2 separate regions of the Homo sapiens genome follow, and region 2 is linked to region 1. Evidence: fine-mapped expression QTL. Tissue or cell type: visceral fat. Region 1 holds a variant in brackets; the other region holds the start of a gene. All regions are shown on one strand. Distances are from middle to middle.

Evidence for each region. PIP is the estimated chance that this variant, and not a neighbour inherited with it, causes the effect.
Region 2: LINC01480 starts here. The variant in region 1 is fine-mapped to the expression of LINC01480 in visceral fat (GTEx, PIP 0.98).

What each region holds. Positions count from the first base shown.
Region 1 is chr19:41,709,337-41,717,437 of GRCh38, forward strand. CEACAM5 (CEA cell adhesion molecule 5) reads left to right here. Exons shown (of 10, transcript NM_004363.6): 2 at 344-703; 3 at 5,635-5,913; 4 at 6,314-6,568. Among named protein-coding and RNA genes, the nearest start is that of CEACAM5, 4.8 kb to the left of the region's middle. The variant A/G (reference allele first, on the strand shown) is at 3,540.
Region 2 is chr19:41,532,021-41,540,109 of GRCh38, forward strand. It overlaps LINC01480 (long intergenic non-protein coding RNA 1480), which reads left to right and starts at 3,478. Exons shown (of 3, transcript NR_110724.1): 1 at 3,478-3,581; 2 at 3,694-3,763; 3 at 4,581-4,884.

The DNA of each region.
Region 1 (8,101 bases):
GGTCAGAAAAGGAAGACCCAGGGTCTCTAGAGGAGGTGTCAGGGAAGGGATCTCCCAAGAATGCCCTGATGTGAGCAGGACCTGAAGGCAATGGGGAGGGAGCCGTGAAGACCCCTGGAAAAGCAGATTCCACACAGGGAAATGCCAAGGTCAGAGGTGCTAAGGAAATAGGAGACACACTGCTGACCTTGACCTAGTAGGACACACACACACACACACACACACACACACTCACTCACTCCAGGGCTGGGGGATGAAGAGACCTGCTCAGGACCCAGGACCCCATTTTTCCACCCTAATGCATAGGTCCCAATATTGACCGATGCTCTCTGCTCTCTCCTAGCCTCACTTCTAACCTTCTGGAACCCGCCCACCACTGCCAAGCTCACTATTGAATCCACGCCGTTCAATGTCGCAGAGGGGAAGGAGGTGCTTCTACTTGTCCACAATCTGCCCCAGCATCTTTTTGGCTACAGCTGGTACAAAGGTGAAAGAGTGGATGGCAACCGTCAAATTATAGGATATGTAATAGGAACTCAACAAGCTACCCCAGGGCCCGCATACAGTGGTCGAGAGATAATATACCCCAATGCATCCCTGCTGATCCAGAACATCATCCAGAATGACACAGGATTCTACACCCTACACGTCATAAAGTCAGATCTTGTGAATGAAGAAGCAACTGGCCAGTTCCGGGTATACCGTGAGTGATTCCCCCATGACCTCTGGGTGTTGGGGGTCAGTTCTACTTCCCACACACAGGATTATCAGGCCTGGGCTGTGCCTGTGGCCCCCTCTGCATTACGCACCATGTTAGGGTTTGGGCATTTAGTGCAGGATACACACAGAAGAGACAAACTTCAACAGATCAGAATTCCTTTCCGGCATCCAGACCCTGCAGACACTCACTGCAGAGGAAGGACAGTCTGATGTGGGGGACTTAGCAGGGGGAGGTCAGTCTCAGCCAAGCACCCCGTGCCCTCCCCGTAAACCTGACCCTGAGAAAGACCCTGGAGAACTGCATCAGAGCCTGGCCTGAGGGACCCCTGGGATATTCACAGAGAAGCTCAGCCCCAGGGCTCCTGGTTCCAGGTGACTCAGGGGAGCCTGTGCCAGGGCTGTGTTGTGGCCTCCTGGGCAAGGCTAACTGGAAGCAAGGACTTAGCAGCTGTCCAAGGGCTGTGGCTCCTGGAGCTGGATTCTGGATGCAGAATCGGACTTTCTGGCCACACTTGTTCCCTGTCCCCAGAGTCTCATTTGGACAAGGACAGAGCCTTGTCCTTTACTTGAGACTCAATGTGGGGAGGATAGATAGACAAGGTTATTAGGGTGTCAGTCCATTGCCCTGGGGACATAGGTGACTCCATGGGAAGCTCAGTGTCCCCAGGAAGAGGAACAGAGGAGAGAAGATGCTCCCGGCAGCTCCTTGTCCACCAGGGATCAGGCCCAGGGCCTTCTCTCTTGGAGGCAAATAAACATAAATGATGTTCATTTGAGCAGCTCCTCTGTGCAGAGCTGAGATCAAGTAATTGTAAATATTTTGAGGTTAATTCACAAACAACCTCACAGCCAAATAGCACTTATCCTACTTATTGAAAGGAAATTGAGGCACAGGGAGACAGTCACTAACAAGGGTCACACAGGCCATAGGTGTCAGATTGAAGTCACATGAGGTCTGTCTGTAGCCACAGCCCCCTCCTCTCCTCAACTGGGGGTGGGTGGGGCTGTTTGTTGTTAGGCATCTGCATCTGAGACCAGTCATGGGCTTGCGTTCTTTTGTCTTGGGCATCCACAGCTCAGAAGCGGAGATTCTGGTCTGGAGAGTGATAAGTAAATGGAGAAATAATCAGTTTTACTCTAGAACTAGATCACCTCAACAGTCAGGGTCAGTGCCGGGATTGTCCAGGCCTCTCCCTGAGATCCACAGCCCCCTCACATGACCTCAAATCCTGTGTTTCCCGATGTGTCAGTGTCACTCCCACGGAAGGATAAAGGAAAGGACTTCGCTTTCTCTCCCCACTCACACCCTGTGCCAACAGAGGCCCAAAGTGAGACACACGCTTGCTCAGTAGCTCTCTCATGAAGGGGGGAATGAGTGAAGGAATGATCCATAACCTCTATAGAGACTGGATCCTGGATGCAGAATCCTGGGAGGTTCTGACCACACCTGTTCCGTGTCCATCAGGGGCTGAGATCCATGTACCATTCCTCTGACCCCCTGTCCCGAAAGCCACCCTATCTCATGTGACTCTGGGGTTCCTTGGCCATGGGAGGGTTTTCAAGGCTCCCTGGTCCTGGTCGGGACAGCCAAGGGACTCCTAGTCCTGGGGTCTCCGAGGTCACTATACCCCGCATGGCTCATTGCCATGGGCATTTCTGACTTTCTTCTATTCCTCCATGTTCTTCGTCTTCCTCCCTCTTCATTCCAGCTGAGATGCCCATCCCTGAACATCTTCCTCCACTCTTAGGCCTTCCCCAGACACTCCCTTGAACAAGGCTGGCTGTCCTGTTTTCTTGCCGCTCACACTGTGTCCTGGCCCACTTCCCAGGCAATAGGGAAGGCACAGAAATCACAGGCAATAGGGAAGGCACAGATGGAGCCCCTGCCAGGCTCCATCACAAGCCAATGTCAACAGGTCACCAGGAGAATGAGCTTCCGCTGTGTTCCTGCCCAGGGCTCTTTACTTCCATGAGGCCAACACACGGAACAGGCAGCAGGACGGGAATGAGCGACTCCTCCATCCACTCCCTACACTGACTCACCAGGGGGTCAGAGGCAGAAGGACAGGTCTGCAGTCCCCAAAGCCCGCATGCTTATTTCACTCACTTCACTACCCACTCCATCTTCATCCTGGTGTGGGGCTCACATCCTCCAGTGGATCCTGGGACCTCCCCCAGGTGGAGCTGGCCAGGCAGGTGCTGTCTGATAGGTTTGCTGCCCATTCCACATACACCTGTGTCCTCATGATGATGCCATTGTCATAAGGTGGAGTCCCTTGGACTGAGAAGTGAACCAGCCACTGGCGTCTCACTTAGACTCTACCCAGTTACAAAAACTTAAACTCTAGTTGTGTTTTCTGAGGTTGATAGGAGAGGAAGAAAACCTTTCACATGCCTGTTTTGAGGCTTCTCCTCTTTTTGCCTAACTCTGCACAGGAACTAGGGGCAGGGAGCGCTTTCTAAATTTACTAACATCACACACATTGCTTCTCCTAACTTGGCATCATTTCTCCCTTTATGTAATTGACACACCTAAGAGTTCCTCTCTGACCGGTTCTGTCCTCTTAACAGGTCTCACATCCCTCTCTCTGTTCAGGGAGTCACTGATTTCAAACCACTTTCAGCATCTTCCTTTGAGCATAATGTGATCACTTTGGAATTCAGAGCAGACCTAAACCTTAGCATAATATTAAAAGAAGTACTACTTCCAGCAATTGATCTTAGATCTTTAGGCCATTGATAAGAATTTCCACTTATGGAAAAAATTTAATGTTTCCCCCAAATGTCTTTCACTTTTTTAACTATAGTCAGAAAATAAC[A/G]TGAGATCTAAACTCCTGACAAATTTTTAAGGGCAAATTATAGTACTACAGATTGAGTATCCCAAATCCTAAAATCCAAAATCTGAAATGCTCCAAAATCCAACATTTTTTGACCACTGACATGATTCTCAAAAGAAATGCTCACTGAAGGCCGGGCACGGTGGCTCATGCCTGTAATCCCAGCACTTCGGGAGGCCAAGGCGGGAAGATCACAAAGTCAAGAGATCAAGACCATCCTGGCCAACATGGTGAAACCCCGTCTCTACTAAAAATACAAAAATTAGCTGGGCGTGGTGGCATGCACCTACAGTCTCAGCTACTTTGGAGGCTGAGGCAGGAGAATCGCTTGAACCCGGGAGGTGGAGGTTGCAGTGAGCTGAGATCGTGCCACTGCACTCCAGCCTGGCAACAGAGCGAGACTCCATCTCAAAAAAAAGAAAAAGAAAGAAAAGAAAAGAAAAAAGAAAGGCTCACTGGAGCACTTTGGATTCCGTATTTTCAGATTTGGGGTGCTAAACTGGTAAGTATATTGCAAATATTCAAAACTCAAAAACAGTCAGAAATCCAAAACACTTTTAGTCCTAAGCCTTACACATAAGACATACTCAATCTGTATGAACTATAGGCACCAAGCTGAACAGCAGATCCCTAGAACCTCCTCATCCTGCATAACTGAAACTGCAGACCCATGAACAACTCTCCATTCCCCCAGTTCCCAGGCTTTGACAACCACCATTCTACTCTCTGATTCCACAAGTGTGACTACTCTAGGGACTTCATATAAGTGGAATCCTACAGTATCTGCCCTGTGAGTGGCTTATTTCATTTAGCATAATGTCCAATGGGAGAAAATAATTGCAAAACTTCTTCTCAAAGTTCTGTCTCATAACTGTCAAACACACATGGTCCTTGAGGGCCAGATTTCCAGCAGTTCATGCTCCCCCTTTTCCACCAGTCAGTTCTGCATTTGCAAATGTCCACATGTATTTATGGAGAGATCCACAGCATCCTCGCCTGCCCTCTGCAAGGGGAGAAGGGACATTAAAGACCAAAGACAGGCCGGGTGCAGTGGCTCATGCTTGTAATCCCAGCACTTTGGGAGGCCAAGGTGGGCAGAACACCTGAGGTCAGAAGTTCAAGACCAGCCTGACCAATATGGTGAAACCCCATCTCTACTAAAAATACAAAATTTAGCTGGGTGTGGTGGTGGGCGCCTGTAGTCCCAGCTACTCGGGAGGCTGAGACAGGAGAATCGCTTGAACCCGGGAGGCAGAGGTTGCCATGAGCCGAGATCGTGCCTGGCCAACACAGCAAGACTCCATCTCAAAAAACAAACAAACAAACAAAGACCAAAGACAAAGAACATACATATGGTTCTGCTGTTAAATCCGGGCAGCTCCTGCCTGTCACCTGAAGTTCTAGATCATTCCCTGGACTCCACTCTATCTTTAGGGGTCTCTGGCTCAAGTCAGTCATCATCAAACACCTGGGAAAAACTGCCCCACCTTGTGCCTCCACTGCCTAACGACTGAGCTGACCTCCAGGCTTGCCTCTGGTGTCCCCTGTGTTATTTCTACTGAAACATCCAGTCCCAGGCCAGGCTGCACAATATGTACAGGGTTTAAGGACAATGGGAAGACCCATCACTATCCATTTCTAGGATGTCCTTGCAAAGGGAAACCACAGAAAAAATATACCTAGGGAAACAAAGTAGGACTGAAGGTGGAAGGGACCCAGCACTTGAATGTTCCAGGTGAGGACCCTACAGTGGGCCAAGTAGTCAACTGGTCAGGGAGGGACCAGGAGAGGCACCAGGAGCTGTGACCTCCCCCCCAGTCCTGTGTCTGTTCACAGCCCAATGCTGCTGCTTAATTCACACTTGAGAAAGTCTGTGCTTCCCCCACACCGAGCAGGCAGCCTCGCAGTCTCTGAGATCTCAGATCATCGTGCATCTGTCTTGTGACACATGCACCCACCGTGGGTTTTTAAGGGCTCAGGTGGGCTGAGAGGTGGAAGGTGCCAACTCTGATTGAAAGATGCCTGTGAGGAATCAAAGGTGCCACACAGGGCAATCTTCTCTCTGTTATCTGCACAGCGGAGCTGCCCAAGCCCTCCATCTCCAGCAACAACTCCAAACCCGTGGAGGACAAGGATGCTGTGGCCTTCACCTGTGAACCTGAGACTCAGGACGCAACCTACCTGTGGTGGGTAAACAATCAGAGCCTCCCGGTCAGTCCCAGGCTGCAGCTGTCCAATGGCAACAGGACCCTCACTCTATTCAATGTCACAAGAAATGACACAGCAAGCTACAAATGTGAAACCCAGAACCCAGTGAGTGCCAGGCGCAGTGATTCAGTCATCCTGAATGTCCTCTGTGAGTATATCTGCTCCTCTCTGGCCCAGGCTGCCAGCCCAAATCCACAGGGCCAGAGGCAGGATTTCTCAGTCCCTCTCAGGTTCAAGTACACAGACCCTCAACCCTGGACATCCAGACTGTCTGTGACTTTCTGCCCCAGAAAAACCTGGGCAGACCAAGTCTTGACCAAGAATAGGAGGGGAGGGGCTGCTTCTGTCCTGGGAGGCTCAGGGTCCACACCCTATGATGGGAGAAACAGGTGAATATCTCAGACTCAGGCTCAGTAGATACAAGAGGGGTTTGGCTGAGACTTTAGGATTGTGATTCAGCTTAGAGGGACACTGTGGTCCTTCCATAGACCAGGAACTTCCACTTCCCTCTGACAATATCACCTGTGGCTTTATTTTGTTTGCTCCAGATGGCCCGGATGCCCCCACCATTTCCCCTCTAAACACATCTTACAGATCAGGGGAAAATCTGAACCTCTCCTGCCACGCAGCCTCTAACCCACCTGCACAGTACTCTTGGTTTGTCAATGGGACTTTCCAGCAATCCACCCAAGAGCTCTTTATCCCCAACATCACTGTGAATAATAGTGGATCCTATACGTGCCAAGCCCATAACTCAGACACTGGCCTCAATAGGACCACAGTCACGACGATCACAGTCTATGGTAAGTGGATCCACGAAGCACTGACATCATGTTTTGAGGTGGAGTCTGTCTGGTTTTCAAACAAGAGCCAGGAAGACATTTTCTATCCCAGCCTGTGTCCAGTGGGCACAAGCAAATCCCAGATTCTCCCACTGAACCTCCCCAATATGTCTCTACAGACTCTTTTCTTCTTGTTCTGATTTCTCATGGCGGGCCCCAGGTCCAGCTTGGAATGTGGGGAGGAGGCTCCCTCAGCCCCACAGCCCTGTGTAGTGGAGGAAGCTTCACAGAGCGGGAAGGAGCAAGGGTTCTCAAGGTCAAGTTGCTTCTCTCTGTCACCAATGTGTCCCTTTCTGTCACCTCTTTGTGTTCTTTTGCCTACTCCATGAGCTACAAGCAACATTCAAGGCTTTGAAACAAGCTCATACTTTTTTCCCAAATGAGAGAAGGAAGCCCCTTGGGTGAGGGAGACACAGCTCAGACTGCTCCCTGCTCTGCTCTGGGCTCCCCTGGGTGACTGGCCTTGCCTGACTCCACCTAGGTGGGAACGAGGTGTGTGGAGAAGGAGCCCGGGTGGTCTGTCCTGAATTCGGCTAAATCAAGCTGCCAATCAACACCAAAGCTTCCCTTCGTCCCAGTCAGGCTGCAGGAAAATGGAAAGAGAGGGAGCCTCAGGGCAGACTCCTGAGCTGCGTCCTGGCTCTGATGTCACCAGCTATATGAGGCTGTGGGCACAGCACATGGGACACAGCACAGGGGACAGCAAGTGACCCACACTTGGAGAAATCAGGAGATTCACCACAGGGGCTCTGCACGGCAGGGAATGGCAGTGTCAAAAATCGTGTGTTTATACAGATGGTAACAGTACATATCTAACACAAACTTACCATCTTAACTTTTCTACACATGCAGTTCAGTGGTATTAAATATATTCCCCTTGTTCTGCTTCCATCACCACCATCTACCCACAGGACTCTTTTCTTCCTCCCAAAATGAAACTCTGTTCCCATCAAACTCCTGGGCAGAGCTGCCCCATCTATGGCCCACAGTCTGATCCCTGACTTGTCACCTCTAGACATGCTCCTAGTCTCCTGCACTATTTCTGCTCAAACATCCATCTCCATCATCACCTATCTCTAGGATGTCCTTAAATAGCAAAGCCTCAGAGCAAACACAACTTGGCTGGGTGGTGTGGGACTGTGCAGCTGGAAGAAACGCAGCTCCTTCAAATTCCAGGTGAGGACCCCAATGGGCCAGGCAGCCAGCCAGTCAGGAAAGGACCAGAAGTGCTGGGGGCTGTGACCCCCAGCCCTGTGTCTGTCCACAACCCAATGCTACTGCCCAATTCACACTTGAGAAAGTCTGTGCTTCTCCCACACAAAACAGCCAGCCTCATGGTCTCTGAGCCCTCAGATCATTGTGCATCTGTCTTGTGACGCACACACACCTGCCATGAGCTTTTAAGGACTCAGTTGGGCTGAGAGGTGGGAGATGCCAACTCTGATTGATAGATGCCCGTGGAGGAATCACAGGTGCCACACAGGGCAATCTTCT
Region 2 (8,089 bases), 180 kb before region 1:
TTTTTTACACTGCCCAAAACTCTCTCTGCTCAGTGCTGGGCACTGGAAAACAATGGCCCTCTCTCTGGAAACCACTATCTGCCATCTCAAGGGCCCACTACAGGTCTGCCCAGCATTTTCATCCCTTCCTCAAGTCTGGTGCCCAGGACCCTCCTCTGCTCTGACAGCCAGGCAGCAGCACTCAAACTCCCCTCCCCTCTTAGCCTTCATACCTTCAGCTGCACTTCTGCCTCTGCAGTGTCAGGATGACCTCCCCTTCCTCCTGTCCTTCCTCATTCTTAAGACTTCCTACCCCTTCTGGATTAATTTATGGAAAACCTAAATAATCTCTTTCAAATTTTAGCCCACTTTTTACATGTAGATTGTTTTATAAGATGAATTTTAACAAACCTTTTCTAAGTTGTTCAACCATTTTCTTTTGTCTTTTTGTTATTTTATTTCCTGAATTTAAAATATTTGAAAACCTCTAAACTTGACAAAACTAATTTTTTCATAAAAGCTATGTTCTCATGTCCTTTTATAAACTTTGACTTAAAATATATTTTACTTGTTCAGTCAGATTTGTGTGTGAAAATTTTTAAGTAGCTTTAGATACAAATATTAATTATAATGGTAACTCTTAAGTATGCATTTTTAGTAAACCACTTAGGAGACAACCAATTTTAATTATGTCCTTGATGTAGAGCTTAAAGAAAAAGATGGAGCTGTAGAAAACATCTTAGTCTTGAAATATCTTACTCTTCCCAGTATAAGGGGGGGCATGGCCCTATTTCACAGGTGCCCAGGCCTTAGCTAGAAATGGATGGTTCCAAGACATGTCAAAAAACTGTTTGAAAGGTTTTAGAAGTTGTTAATGACATGAAAATATTTAGTAAAGGCAGTATTTGATCTGTCTAATTTGGATCCAATATCTAAACTCTGAAGACATATTTATTTTATTTTGCTAATTTTAAAAGTGGCTTTATTTTTTAAAATAATGTTTATGTTTCTTTCAATAGTGTGTGGAATATATGTGGTTTTTGGTTATGTGGATAAAAGTTCCTTAGTGGTAATTTCTGAGATTTTGAGGCATCTGTCTCCTGAGCAGTGTATAATATACCCAATATGTCATCATTTATTCCTCATCCCCCTCCCAACCTTTCCCCGAGTCCCCAAGTCCATTATATCATTCTTATGCCTTTGCATTCTCATAGCTTAACTCTCATTTAAAAGTGAAAACATTCAATATTTGATTTGCCATTCCTCAGTTACTTCACTTAGAATAATGGCTTCCAGTTCCATCCAACTTGTTGCAAAGGACATTATTTTGTTCCTTTTTATTATCAAGTATTATTCCATGGTGTACCACATTTGCTTTATCCACTCGTTCGTTGATGGGCACTTAAGTTGGTCCCATATCACTGCAATTGCGAATCGGCTGCTATAAACATCCATATTCTTGTGTCTTTTTTATGGAATAACTTCTTTTCCTTTGGGTAGATAGCCAGTAATGGGATTGCTGGAATGAATGGTCTACTTTTAGTTCTTTAAGGAATCCCCATACTGTTTACCATAGTGGTCGGACTAGTTTAAATTCCCACTAGCAGTGTCAAAGTGCTCCCTTTTGACCACATCTATGCCAACATCTATTGTTTTCTGACTTTTAAATTATGGGCTTCTAGCAAGATTAAGATAGCATCTCATTGTGGTTTTGTTGTGGGATTTAGGAGGATGAGAGAGAGGCTTTGGGTTAAAACAGGAGAATCTTTTATTGAGTGCTCTCAGGCCCAGCAGACTCACGTCCAAAGACAGGGCCTGGAACAAAGACAGCACTTGACTTTTATACACACTTCACAAAAGGGGGTGGGCCAGCTTGAAGCAAGCTTACAGTGGTGTGAAAGCAGGGATACAGAGGCAGGAAAAAGACAGTTAATCAAATTGTAACAGGTTCATAACTCAGGATTGCACATAACTGTTGCTATGCAACCCAGATGTCTATTATCTAGGTTTTGCTCTAAAGAGGCTTGCATTGGTTTATCTTCACTATGGTGCCTAGAGAGCTGTAGTTCAGGCCTGCTCAGGCTTCTCATGACCTTTGCCATACTTCTTAGATAAAACAGAATACTTGAAGTTACTAGTTAAAGAGAACAAGAATCTATAAACTCATACCATAAAACAAAGGAAAATTTGTTTTTCTTCTCCCTACATTGAAGGAGTGCTGGAAGAGTCTCCAGAATACAATAAATAATATTATCAAGACTTTTCCTGGGTCTGGGCTGTGCCTGTTGCTGCCTCTGGGACAAGTTAGCTTAATACAAGAAAGCTTATTTCCCTTTCTTTTTAATTTTATTTTTCTTTAATTTCCCACCTCAGTTTTACTTTGCATTTCCCTGAGAATTTTTAATAAGTAAAATACTTAGAAATATACTTAACCAAGTAGGTTAATGTAAGTTTCCTACAAGGAAAACTACAAAATAGTGCTGAAAGAAATCACAGTTGACACAAACAAATGGGAACACATTATAAGCTTATGAATAGGTAGAATCAATATTGTGAAAGTGACCATACTCTCCAAAGCCATCTACAGAGCAGTAGAATTCTCATCAAAATATCATCATTCTCCTTCCCAGAACTAGAAAAAAGAATCCTAAAATTTATACAAAACCAAAAACGTGACCGCATATCCAAAGCAATACTTTGCAAAAAGAACAAATCTGAAGGCAGGCTTTAAATTATACTACAAGGCTACAATCACCAAAATAGCATGATACTGGTATAAAATATGCACATAGAGCAATAGAACAGAATAGAGAACCCAGAAATAAAGCCAAATGCTTACAGACAACTAATCTTCAACAAAGTACACAAAAACATTAATTGGGGAAAGGATACTTTATTCAATAAATGGTGCAGGAAGTATAAAAATAGGCACATAGAGCAATGGAACAGAATAGAGAACCCAGAAATAAAGCCAAATGCTTACAGACAACTAATCTTCAACAAAGTATGCAAAAACACTAATTGGGGAAAGGACACTTTATTCAATAAATGGTGCAGGAAGTATAAAAATAGGCACATAGAGCAATGGAACAGAATAGAGAACCGAGAAACAAAGCCCGGTACTTTCAGTCACCTGATCTTTAACAAAGCATATAAAAACTTCCATCTAAGACCTGAAAGTCTAAAAATGCTACAAGATAGCATCCAAAAAGCTTTTCTAGACATTGGCTTAGGCCAAGTAGTCATGACTAATGCCCCAAAAGCAAACGCAAAAATATAAAAATAGAATAAGATCAATAGGACCTAATGAAACCGAAAATCTTCTGCAAGGCAGAAGAAATATCAGCAGGGTAAACACACAACCCACAGTATAGGAAACAGTAGTCACAAACTAGGCATCTGACAAAGGACTAATGTCCAGACTCCAAAGGAACTGAAAGAAATCAGCAAGAAGAAAAGGTGCCATTTACCACCTTCCTGACTCATTGGCCAGAACCAATGTTAGTGGAATTAACATATGCCCCACCCCAAGTGACTTCTAAAGGGCTAACTCACCACAAGGGAGTCAGAGCAGATCTTGGACTGAGACCTACAGGACACAGGTACTGCTTTTTCTCTTTTATTTGTTTTAAATTTTATTTATGTTTTTAGATCAAATAGTTCAGATTGCATTGGTTTTTAATCTGCTGTTGTTGGATTAACATATGCTTTAAGCGACTCTTAAATAGGTGGCTCACCAGGAGAAAGGCATAGCAGAACCTGGACTGAGACCTACGGGAGACAGGTATTGCTTTTTCTCTTCTAATCATTTTAAATTTAATTTACCATCTTTCATCAAATAGCTCCGATCATATCATTATTTTTTCTTTTCTGTTTTGTTGGTGGTTTTATTGGTGGAGTTTTATTTTACTATTTTAGAAAAGCAGTCTTTTAAAAAAGACTTTTAAAAAGTTTTATTACTCTTTTTTTTAAAAAAATTATGTTTTCCCTTGATGTGCTTATTTCCTTTATAAAGATCATCACCATTAAATTACTAGGAGATACTGCGGCTGATTTTGTCATGCGTGAGATAAGAAATTTTTTGCCAAAGCAATTAGTGATGAGTGCAATGGAAAAATCCGTGATGATCTTTTAAGATGATTAACTTTCTAATCCAGAAAATGCTGCTGTTTGTACTGAACAAAATAGCTTTATTTTTATATGACCAGGGGTACATAAAATGCTTCAAAACAACACATAATTTGGCAAAAATACTATGTCTTGCCAGCCAGAAGAATAAGTGTGGTTTTATTTCTATGTATATGTCTAGTACCATGCCTGCACTAGAGTTGGGAAATTTTAAAAACATCACCTATTGATACAGAAGAGAAGTGCTGGGAAGGGAAGGGCATGGTCCCTTTGAATGATACAGAAAAGGTGAAGGAAAGTGATGGGTAGAGGAGGCCGGGGTCCCTGGCTAGGGCTCCAAACCTGGGCTTGTGCCCCTGGACCTAGATGAGGACAGGCATTTTTGTTTTCCTGACCAAATGTTGCATTTCCCAAGATCACCCTGGCCCACCATGCCCTATCCTGTGCCTAAAAAAACCCTGGGACCCTAGCAGGCAGACACACAGGAGGTTGGACGTCGAGAGGAGCACATCAGTGCAAGAACACATGGGTGGCTGCCACTTCTCTCCCTTTCCTGAGAGGGAAAAACTCTCGACGCTGAGAGGAATCCACCAACAGGCACCAGCACTCTGGCAGGCCACCGACCAATGGATTGACATAGAGTTTGGCTGGGGCAGCCAGAGGAGAGCCTGGGCCGCTGAATAACCCGACTTCAGGGGAAAACTATTCTCCCTTTTGGCTCCCCCATCTGCTGAGAGCTACTTCCACTCAATAAAACCTTGCACTCATTCTCCAAGACCACGTGTGATTTGATTTTTCTGGTACACCTAGGTAACAACCGCGGGATACAGAAAGCCCTCTGTCTTTGGGTTAAGGAATGGGTCTAATTGAGCTGGTTACCACAAAGCCACCTATAGATGGCAAAACTAAAAGAGCACATGGTACCACATGTCCACTGGGGCTTCAGCAGCTGTAAACATCTACCCCTAGATGCTGCCATGGGGTTGTAGCCCCACAACTTGCCAGTCTGTATGCTTCCCTAGAGGTTTGAGCAGCGGAGTACTAAAGAAGCAAGCCACACCCCCACTCCACCTCCTGTGAGGGGGACAAGGAAACTTTTCCCATTTCAACTGGTGGCTCGTCTGGGATCTCGGAAGGTGAGTGTGAGTGAATGGGAAACTGTTGGGCCTGCCTTTCTTCCAAAACTCTGCCACTTCTCTCCCTTTCCTGCAGGTAAAAGACTCTGTTTTCCTTTCATCTCTTTTCTCTCTCACACATTATTTGAAATGGATCTTATCTCTTCCTTTATAATGTTAAGAGTTTTGCTACAGGCTGAGGCAATGTTACTAAGTAAAATGAGCATTTGGCTCAGCCGCCAAAGGTGCAAATCAGACCAATTTTTCCTAGAGGTGCCATGTATGCCTCCACCTTGACAGCCCCAGGCATGAGCGGCTTCCAGGGCACCTCTCCTTACCCTTTTCCCTCCCAGCTCCAGCACCTAGGCATGCCTGCAGCAGGCAAAGGCCACACCCAATAGCCATGAAGGGGCAGGGGGAGCAATGTCGCAGAAGTGTCTCCCTCCACTGCCTGGGATGAGGGGGGTGTGAGAAAACCGATGGTAGCCAGGACCCTACAGAGTGCTTCTCACCCACTGCATCAATGGAACCTTTCCTTCCATGGCCAAGGAATTCAACCTGGTCTGAACTGGGGGAAGGATGGGAAAGTTATAAGGATTAGAGGGGCCCACTTGCACTAAGCAAGGGGTTCTTCCCCCAGCATTCCCCACTTTTTGCCTCTTTAACTGTTTTTCTCTTTTTTTCTTTTCTAAGTGAGAATCCCCACCGCTCTGTTTCTAATAGGGAAGTTAACAGAGGAGTGACCCCTGCTGGCTGATAATTGCAAATTCAGCAGGGCTTATTTGAGGCACTAAATGGATATAAACAGCCTCTGAAATGCTTTTTCAGTCCCAAACTCAATTCCAAGCTTCAGGCTGAGGCCCTAGAAAGAGAAAGCAGGTCTGAGGAATTCAAAGCCAGGCAACAGGCACAATGTAAATGGACAGGACCAATTCCTGCTGACTGAACCCCATCCCACAGAAGGAGGCCATGCCTCATGGGATAAAAAGGCCCAGGGAACTCAAAGTTTTTCAACAGCAGGGAGAAAAGGAAACATAGGTGAGGGCAGTTAATTCCTAATCTCCAGGTTCTCCCTGCTTCATGGGTACATACCGCATTTGTACCTGTGGCCGGCACCTGCCAAGGTTGCCAGGGCGCAGGGGTAAGAGGTGGAAAGTGAAGTGAAGATGCTTGCTTTCCCTCCCCATCACACCCTGAGCTTTTTGCCAAAAGAAGGAAGGGAAATGAGGAACACCTCTATTCCCTGTCTTTCAGAATGGGCAGCCAGTTCTCCTCACCACCCCCAGCTTGTACTCCCCTTGAGTGTATCCTGAACCATTGGGACTGTTTTGACCCTCAGAATCCAGAGGAAAAGCATCTCATAGCCCTCCGCACATAGGTTTGGCCAAATTATGGTTTACAGGAAGGACTGGCTTGGCTTCAGGAAGGGACCATTCATTTCAATACCATCCTGCAATTAGAACTTTTCTCTGGATGTGAGGACACATGGTCTGAGGCCCCAAATGTGCAGGCTTTCTATACCTTGCAAAGCAATCCAGACCTTTGCTGACATGTAGGATTGTTCCAGCCCTCCTGTTTGCTGTCTCGGGGAAGGCTGCCAGGGTCAAGCCCAGGGAATTAAAGACACGAGTCCCAGACGCACCCCCAGCTGACGTGCCAGCTCCCTCAAGCCCTGCTCCTCTGGGTCCACCCCAACCTCCGTATCCAGCTTCAGCCTCTCACCTGGCCCCTCCTAGAAATCTTCATCCCAAACAAGCCCAGTCTCACTCTTGCCCCTCCTACAGATGCCCAGTGAATTTGGGCCCAGTAAGGTCCAAGTCCTCTTTTCCCTACAAGACTTAAAGCAAATTAAGGGAGATCTGGGCAAGTGTTCAGATGACCCTGATAGATATATAGAAGCTTTCCAGAATTTCACCCTAACATTTGAACTCTCCTGGAGAGACGTTATGTTACTTTTGAGTCAGAACCTGATAGACACTGAGAAGCAGGCTGCTCTGCCAGCAGCAGAGAGATTTGGGGATGAGCTTTGCATCACCTATAGCATCAGGGAAGGGAGCGAATATTATCCAACTGGAAGAGAAGTAGCACCAGTGAAGGACCCTAAATGGGATCCCAATAATGAGATGGAAGACTGGAAGAGGAGACACTTTCAGGTGTGCATAATAGAGGGCTTACGTAGGTCTAAGACCAAGCCTCTCAATTATACTAAGTTGTCCATAATTAACCAGGGATTTGATGAAAATCCCACTGCCTTCCTGGAGAGGCTAAGAGAGGCCTTGGTAAATCACACCTCTCTATCTCCTAATTCAATCGAGGGACAGATAATCCTAAAGGATAAAATTATTACTCAGGCAGCTCCTGACATCAGGAGGAGGTTGCAGAAATGGGACTTGGGACCAGATAGTACATTAGAGGACCTCCTGAAAGTAGCCACCTCGATCTTTTATTATAGAGACCCCTGGGAGGAATCTGACTGCCGTTTTCCCCCAAAACAATGCCCCCTTTCAGCAGGAAGCAGCTAAGACTGGTCATCATCCATATTCTAATGGCAGTTAGATGTACCTCTTCAGAGGGGGCAAATGACATGAAAGTGAAGTGCTGGGATGGGAAGGGCATGATCCCTTTGAATGATATAGAAAAGGTGAAGGGAAGTGTTGGATACAGGAGGCTGTGGTCCCTGGCTAAAAGCTCCACACCTGGGCTTGTCCCCACGGACCTAGATGACAACAGGCATTTTTGTTTTCCTGACCGAATGTTGTCTTTCCCAAGATCATCCTGGCCTGCTAAGACCCATCCTGTGCTTATAAAAACCCCAAGACCCTAGCAGTCAGACACACAGGAGGCTTGACGTCGAGAGGAGCACATCA